Linked DNA regions of Homo sapiens: region 2 is linked to region 1. The links come from fine-mapping of genetic effects on gene expression. A gene starts in region 1. The other region holds a variant in brackets. All regions are shown on one strand. Distances are between the middles of the regions.

Region 1 (4,383 bases):
GGCGGAGGCAGTGAGCCGAGATCGCACCATTGCAGTCCAGTCTGGGAGACAAGAGCGAAACTCCGTCTCAAAAAAAAAAAAAAAAAAAAAGTCTCTCTATTTACTCTAATGGGGGAGGTGATGTATGTGTCCAGGTACCAGGAGGGAGGTGCAGATAGGAGTTCAGAGAGAATGCCTTTGGGCATGAGTCTCCCTGCCAAGCCTAGGTGTCCTGACTCTGGTCTGCTGTGGCTATCTCACTCACCAGATTTTAAATTCCTCGTGGACAGGGACCGTATCTTATTCGAATTAACTGTCTTCACCCAGTGCCCAGCCTCTTGGGGCCGGGCAAAAATGTGGGACGAATCTCTAAGCAGTGTCCTATCCACCTTCCTTAAAGAAAACTCCACCCCTGTCTTTATAAGCCTGTTTCTTCTGCTTCTGAATGGCCTGCAGCCCCAGGTTCCCAACTGTCAGGCCCCCTTGGGCTGGTCCTATTCCTTCCCTGTGGGTTTGAGGTGTCATCCCTTGGAGCTTGGCCGCCAGCGCCAGCGCCAGCCCACCCTTCCTCCCTCCCACCACATCCCCACCCTTCCTGCTGAGCACTGGGTGGTAGCAGATCAGTCTAGCACTTCCTCTAATGGCTAATGTTTTTGTGGGAGGTTCTGAACTAGGGTTAAAAGACAAAAGCTCTTCCCCCCTCCCCTCCCCCAGTTCTAGTGTTGGTTCTTCTAGTTCTGACGTTCCCGTTGCTGTATCCCTAGATCCCGCCTTTGTTTTAAGCTCCCGAAGAAAGGCTTCCGGAGACTTTGTGACCTCACCCAATTTCCAACATTCCAGATTGTCTTTTCTTTCTTTAAAATCAGTGTTCCCTTCTGAGTCAGCTAGGAGGAGGCCAGAGGGAAACAGTGGGGCTTTCGAAGCTTATCAAAAGCAAACCTTGCTCTTTTGAAAAAGCATTTTCCAACGCAACCTGGGGACAAAGTGGGGTTAAATTTTACACAGATTGCTTACGAGCAAGAGTTAAGTGGCTAACAAGTCATGAAATCTTACGGAGAAGCAGGTAAAGCCAAAATTAAAAACTCCCTCCGAGTCAGCCCATTCTGCGACCCACCTCCTCCCCTTTGCGGCAGGAACTCTACTCCATCGAGGGGCTTTGCTGCAGTGGCACTGCCCACGCATACTCAACTAAAAGACTCAGACCACGCCAGCCATGCCACGAGGTGTGTTTTATTTTCATTATTCATACAAATAATTTTCTATAATATCCCGGGGCAAACCGGAGAATTTGGCAGTCCGATTGGGGGGGGGTCCCTTCAGAGACCCACAGGCCGGTGGCATCGGCGCGGAGTGCCCAGGTTCACAGTGCAGCTTGTGGCTCGTGTCCATCTTGCAGGTGGCTCTTCCTCCACATCACGACTGGGGTCTCGAAGAGGACGGGGGTAGGAAATCCTCCAGGATCTTAGGAAATTTCACTCCGCTTCTCCTGCTCAATGGCTGTGGAGAGCGGGAAGCGGGCGCTGGAGGGGAGCTGCAACCCCCACCCGCAACCGAGGTGCTTCCCGGTGTGGGCGAGGCACCCACGAGGTGTGGGGATTTAGAAGGAAGCTTGGGGCTGGGGAGAAACAAGGCGCTTTGTGAAACTGAAAGAGTGGCCGGGGCCGCCCACACCGGGGACAACGGCGGGGTGGGGGGTGGAGGAGTGGGTTTGCAAGGAAGAGCAGGGTGAGGGGCTGGGCTGGGGCGCGGGAGACCGAGGCACACTCACTCTCTTTGGTCGGCAGGGTGTTCTTCTCCTGCGTCTCCGTTTTCTTCAGCTTGGCCTTATCGAAGCTGGCGATTTCCCCCATGTCTGGTTTGTCTGCCATTTTCTTAAAACAATCCTAGTGGGCAAACCAAGGCGCTTGACCTGGGCCTGGGGGCCAGCGTCCCCTTCCGCGCTCCCCGCCGACGCCTCTCGACGTGGCACTCGCGCCAAGGCGTGCCGAGCAGCCCCAAGGCCGAGGATCTGGGCGCGTCCCGCACCCCTCTTCTCGGTCCCAGGGCGTGGTCGCCGGCCCCTGCGTCCGGTCCGAGAAGGGCGCCTGTCGCGGTTGCGGCGCGCCCGCCCGGTGCACCGGATCCGACCACACCCTGGGTGGGCCCCCCGCCCCGGCGCCGCACTCACCGTGCAGTCTCGTTCCGAGCCCGAGATCCTGGTGCTCCCACTCGCGTTGCTGCAGCAAGAAACAAAAGAGCGGCGCCCGCCCCTAGCCTTATATACGCCGCGCCCCGCCCCGCCCCTCACCCGCCGCAGCAGGGGCGGTGCTGGCACCCGAGGGGCGGGAGCAGCGCGGGCTGCTCCTCGCCCTGCCGCGCCCCCCGCTGGGCTACCAGCCCGGCTGGGCGCGGCTTCTCCCGCGCCGGGCACCCCCAGCTCGCAGTGTGCCCAGCGTGGGGGCTGTAGTCGCCGCCAGAGTGGGCGCCAGGCCCCCGGCTTTGCTTTTGCGGCTACATTTCCCCCTTTCCGGGAATCTGCTGCTCACCCCGCAGAAAGGATATGGGACCGGCGTGGGAGGGTGTGTGGTTTTGTGCGTGTGCAGATATGATGTGTAGCCGTGGGTGTGGATGTGCGGGCGTGCACGCGCACTCTGCAGCAATCCTCGCTCTAGGAGACGCCCCACCCCAGTCGCCCCCAGGCCTCTTGCTTTTGCTCCTCCAGAGTCCCCTTCCCTCCCCCACTTTTCCTCTCCTTAGGGAGGCTGAGTCCTAAGGTGGTCCTGCACTAAAAGAATTCGAGCCGAGGGTCCCGTAGTGGAGCGGGGGGCGGGGGGGTGTAGGGGGAGGGGGGAATAGGTTTCCAGCGCTCTTTGCTCAGGTTGGGGGCGGTTGCCTTCTGGTCAGTCGTCCCCTGTTCCCTGAACTGGGCGGTTCCAGCAGGATCGTTGGCGTGGCGGGTGTTCCTTAAATGCTGTTAGACGCATTGTGTGAAGGGCTGTGGTGGGAACAGGGCGTCCCGAGAAGGCTCGCAGTTTGCCTTTTCTCGTCGAGCTCCTAGAAACACTGTATCAGCGGGTGCGGTTTTCCTCCTTGAAGTTAACCTTGAGGATAATAGAGACCCACATGCCTACAAACGTTCTTGTTTTTCTTATTAACCCATTGTAGGAGTGGTATACTGCAATTATTCACATCTTTCTTAGAAAAGTTGTATTTTCAGCCTGTGCAACACCGTTAGGTAATAAGTTCCATAAATTACCAGCCCCGGAGTTAAGGCTGGTCATTCTTTTATTTGTCCTGACCTTTCCTTTTTTAAGTGTGAAGTATTACCGAGCTCTTTAAAGTGGGATTTGGTGGTGACATCCTAAATTCGGTCCTGATTTTATTTATTTACTTTTTTTGAGACAGGGTCTCACTCTGTCACCCAGGCTGGAGTGCAGTGGTGTGATCACGGCTTATGGCAGCCTGGACTTCCCCGGTTCAAGTGATTCTTCCACCTCAGCCTCCTGAGCAGTTGGGACTGCGGGCGTGCACCACCACTAGCGGCAAATCTTTTGTGTTCTTTTTGTAGAGACGAGATTTCACCATGTTGCCCAGGCTGGTCTCGAACTTCTGGGCTCAAGCCATCTGCCTGCCTTAACCTCCCAAAGTGCTGGGATTACAAGCCTGAGCACCACTCCCTGCTTCTCCCCTCCTGATTTTACCTGCTTTTCTCACGTTCCTTCAGTTTGGAACAGTGGGAAGAGAGCATAGGCTTGTGTGACCTTGGGCAAATCTTTTCCTTAGTTTCTTCATCTATAAAATAGCCTTGGCATAAACTGAGGTGAGATAAAGAAGAGGCATAGAGTGGATACTTTTTCTTTCTTTTTTTTTTTTTAGCAGGGTCTCTGTGCAGCGGTGGGATCACAGGTCACTGCAGCTTTTTTTTTTTTTTTTTTTTCTTTTTTGAGACGGATCTCACTCTGTTGCCCCGGCTGGAGTGCAGTGGTGCAATCTCAGCTCACTGCAACCTCCGCCTCCCGGGTTCAAGCGATTCTTGTGCCTCAGCCTCCCAAGTAGCTGGTATTACAGGCACGTGCCACCATGTCCGGCTAATTTTTGTATTTTTAGTAGAGACGGGGTTTCACCATGTTGGCCAGGCTGGTCTCAAACTCCTGACCTCAAGTGATCTGCCCTCCTTGGCCTCCCAAAGAGCTGGGATTACAAGTGTGAACCGCTGTGCCTGGCCTCAAGTGGATACTTCAAATAGCAACCTCATTAGAATATCACACTTATATTTGATGAGTGCATTGGTTAACTTCTGCTGCAATATGCCATGTAACAAACCACCCAAAGCTTAGGAGTTTAAACAATGATTTATTCTTGTTCCTATATGGGCAGGTCAGATGGTGCTGGGCTGGGCCGGGCTGAGCTTGGCTCCAGACTTTG
Region 2 (4,383 bases), 57 kb before region 1:
TGATGTTGGCTACAGTTTTCTGCCACTTCCATGAAGTCTGGAAAGGGTCAGAAGGCCCAAATGCCATCTGGTTACTTCACCAGTTCTCTGTTATCTATCAATCTCACAGTCACTATGCAGGAGTCACTGAGGCCTCAATTCTGCTTTGCAGTCTTCATCCCAAATTCTGCCACCCTGAATGTTTTCAAGTATGGCCTTACAATTGGCCTTACAAGGCCTTGATTTTTTTCAAATCTGTGTGCACTTCCACTTCAACCACCCATTCCTCTCTTGTGACCATGCTCGAAACTCTAATAATCTGTCTTATTGTAACTTCCTATTTTTCAGTTTTCTTACTCTCTACCACTAAACCTTTTTTTTTTTTCTTTTAATGTCCAGCGTCTTGCTGTGTCACCCAGGCTGGAGTGCAGTGGTGCGATCATGGTTCACTGCAACCTTGAACTCCTGGGCTCGAGCAATCATCTTTATTTATCAGTGGACACTGAGTAGCTGGGACTACAGGCGTGCACCACTGCACCCAGCTAATTTTCTTATTTTTTGTAGAGACAAGGGTCTCGCTTTGTTACCTAGGCCAGTCTTGAACTCCTGGCTTTAAGTGATTCTTCCACCTCAGCCTCCCAAAGTGCTGGAATTAATAGGTATGAGCCACCACGCCTGGCCTAATCCTTGATGTTTGCACTTGCTGTTATGGTTTTTGTTTGTTTTTCTGAGACAGAGTCTTACTCTGTTGCCCAGGCTGGAGTGCAGTGGCCTGATCTCAGCTCACTGCAACCTCCGCCTCCTGGGTTCAAGTGATTCTCCTGCTTCAGCCTCCCGAGTAGCTGGGAATACAGGCGCCTGCCACCACGCCCGGCTAATTTTTATGTTTTTAGTAGAGGCAGGGTTTCACCATGTTGGCCAGGCTGGTCTTGAACTCCCCACCTCAAGTGATCCATCCGCCTCGGCCTCTCAAAATGCTGGGATTACAGGTGTAAGCCACCACGCCCAGCCGGTTTTTTCTTTTGTTTTTCCCTTTTTAACCCCATTCTCTACCTTATGCAACTGGTGCCCTGTGGTCAACTCAGACTTCTCATTCATGCCCTCAGCTCCTTAAACCCCTCATCCTCAAACTCTACCAGCTTTGCAAGCTTCCAAGCCTGAATTGCCTGACTCAGTTTATCCCTGTGTGTATCTGCTTGGGGTGTAGAATATAACAACTAAAAATGATAGAAGTGTACAGATTGTGGCTGTTATGAATCTAGGGCATTCAACTGCGGTTGGACCTCAGTGCCATTGAGCAATCTTTGTCTTTGGTCAGAACCCTCTTCTATAAACATTCACCACTTGGTTCCAACTGCTTACTCACCCACGTGCCTAATAGATAACCTCACCTCCTAATTCACAGAGGGAGGAAAGTTCAAAATGCAGGAACTTTCACTTCCCACTGTGAGCCTCCAAGGGAGTGTGTACATCTGCATCCTGCTGCCTCATGCATGGAGATAGCCTTTCTGTTCAACCTGTCATCTGTTATGATCCCACTTCATCCCATCAATGGGATCTTACTCCTTCAGCCACCCCCTTGGCACCTGTACTTTCAGCTGCTCAGCCTCTACTGGTCCGTTGCCCTCAGCCAAAAAACGCCCCTTCAACCCTGCACTCCTGGTTATTACCCTATTGTTTCTCTCTGTGGACAATCTTCTTGAAAGAATTGTCACTCCCCTTCCTCAGCTTAGAAACTGGTTTATCTGATTGCCTGACTTTTGGTGCTGTTGGTTACCCTCTCATTTTCTGGGATACCACTATCATCATCTTCTCTTTCATGTCTTTGCTGTTTTTGTATCCCCTATTGGATTGAGCAAAGTCATCAGCCTAGTCAAGTCACCCCCCAACAAGATGAAACACAACAGTCATCCTAGACTCCTTCCTCCCATTTATCTTCCATAGCCAATTGCCAAATCCTGTGATGTTTACCCATTAAACATCTGTCAAATCAGTCCCTTTCTCTTTATTCCCATGGCCACCAAACCATTCCAGGCTGCTATCATCTCTTCTCGAGATGTGGAGTGATCTTGGCTCCTCACTATCATACTCCCTTATGTGGTCCTTTGTACTGACCTGAGCAATAATGATGCTGAAGGCCCCACTGTTCGCTGCCAGCCC[A/G]CAGAGAAGAAGTCTATGCCAGAGAACGAGTGACCAGAAGAGGCTATGCTCACAGAAGTCAGAGAAGCAGAGTCTTCAGGAAGGGAGAACATCGGTGTCCACCAAGCAGAGATACCTCATGAGATAGATTGAAGTGTGGCCCCTGGATTTCAGAAATGGATGTCATCTGTCCATGGAGGAGTAGGGTAAGAAGCTGCATTGCAGTAGGCTGAAGGGTGTCCTTGGAAGCCTAGAAACTGACAGTAGCTATAGATGACTTCTAGAAGATGAGCTGAAATAAGAATGTGAAACAAACTCAACCACTAGGAATCAAATCCAAATTAAAAGGAGACACCATTTCACCTCTTAAATTGGCAGAAAAATACTTTTAATAATACTTGATAATGAGGATGTCAAGAAAGGAATATGACTTGTTACAAGCATTCCAAATGGGATTTTATGGTAGGTTTCAAGAGCAATAGATTTTTGCCCATTCTTTGCCATAGTAATCCCAGCTCAACTCAGTCTATTTAAGTAATTACTGATAGATGCAAAGATTTTAGACACAAGAATGTTTATCACAGTGTTCTTTTTAATATTTAAAATTGAAAACCTATAAATTATTGTCTATCCAAACCAAAAGCAGCAACTAAAAATGGGTAATGAACTAGAAATATGATGTGTTTTTAGTGAAAAAAGCAGGTTACAAAACATTCTTTTCTAAATTATGTATGTACAGCCTGATGTCATTATTGTTTTTGTTTTTTTGAGACTGGGTCTTGCTCTGTCATCCAGGCTGGAGTACAGTGGCATGATCATGGCTCACTGCAGCCTCGACCTCCCAGGTTCAAGCGATCCTCCCACCCTCACTCTCCTGAGTAGCTGAGCCTACAGGCATGTACCACCAGGCCCAGCTAATTTTAAGTTTTTTTTTTTTTTTTAGAGTTGAGGTCTTGCTATGTTGCTCATGCTGGTCTCAAATTCCTGGCATCAAATGATCCTCCCACCTCAGCCTCCCGAAGTGCTGGGATTACAGGCGTGAGCCATGGCACCTGTCCTCATTTTTTATTTTTAATAAAACATGTAAAGATTGGATGGCTATCAGAGTCAATATGGTTATGGGGGTATAATATGGATGATGTATTTTTTTTTATGTTACCCAGGTTTGTTATATGGTATATAGCATGATGCTGAGGTTTGGGGTGTGAATGATTATATCACTCAGGCACTAAGCATTGTACCCAGAAGGTAGGTTTTCAGCCCTTGACTCACTCCCTCTCTCTTCCATCTAGTAGTCCCCAATAAATACATATTTATTGAGTCTTCTGGGTCCACTGAGGACACAATCATGAAAAAGAAAACTATGTCCCCATCCTGGAGGTGTTTACATTCTGGTGACAAAACTAATTGAAGCAGTTCTGATTGATGTTTTGAGAGCTTATGATAAGGTATGAAGGACTTTTTTTCCTTTTAGTTTTGAAATTTTCTGTAATGAACATATACACTGGTTTCATAGCCCTTTTGTTTCTTTTTTCTTTCTTTTGTATTTAAAGAAGCTTGGCAGAGGCCGGGCATGGTGGCTCACACCTGTAATCCCAGCACTTTGGGAGGCTGAGGCAGGTGGATCACTTGAGGTCAGGAGTTGAAGACCAGCCTGGCCAACATGTGAAACCCTGTCTCTACTAAAAATAACAAAAATTAGCTGGGCGTCATGGCACACTCCTGTAATCCCAGCTACTTGGGAGGCTGAGGCAGGAGGGTCACTTGAGCCCAGGAGCTGGAGGTTGCAGTGAGCCAAGACTGTGCCACCACTCAACAGAGTGAGACTCCGTCTCAAAAAAAAAAAAAAAAAAAAAAAAAAAAAAAGCTTGTCAGAGAAATAAATGAGAAATTAAAAGATGGTAAGTGGAGGCCCCAGAGTGAAGGGAAGTGTTTTTGGTTTTAGGAATAGGAGAGTCTAGTGTGTTTAGAGGTTTAGGGGAAGGATCCAGGAGAGGCAGCAGAGAACTGAAGGGTGTATGTGTGTGTGGAGCAGGGAGGTGGGGGTGGTGAGGGTGGGAGATGGAGGGGAGAAGGAGCCCAGATAAATTTAGCTTCCACCAGGAGCAGGATGCCTCTTCCTCTGCTGGTGCTATAGGAAGGTTGCCAATGGGCCGGGTGCGGTGGCTCATGCCTGTAATCCTAGCACTTTGAGAGCCCAAGGTAGGTGTATCACGAGGTCAGGAGTTCAAGACCAGCCTGGCCAGTATGGTGAAACCCTGTCTC

Evidence for each region.
Region 2: its variant is fine-mapped to the expression of TMSB10 in adrenal gland (GTEx, PIP 0.97).

The regions. Positions count from the first base shown.
Region 1 is chr2:84,903,482-84,907,864 of GRCh38, reverse strand. TMSB10 (thymosin beta 10) reads right to left here and starts at 2,209. Exons shown (of 3, transcript NM_021103.4): 1 at 2,147-2,209; 2 at 1,748-1,862; 3 at 1,194-1,476. The coding sequence starts at 1,847. The coding sequence ends at 1,442. LOC105374836 (a long non-coding RNA gene) reads left to right here and starts at 844. Exons shown (of 2, transcript XR_940308.3): 1 at 844-1,202. RefSeq lists enhancers at 883-942, 747-1,946 and a silencer at 1,913-2,452.
Region 2 is chr2:84,960,857-84,965,239 of GRCh38, reverse strand. No RefSeq gene overlaps it. Among named protein-coding and RNA genes, the nearest start is that of KCMF1, 8.1 kb to the left of the region's middle. The variant A/G (reference allele first, on the strand shown) is at 2,140.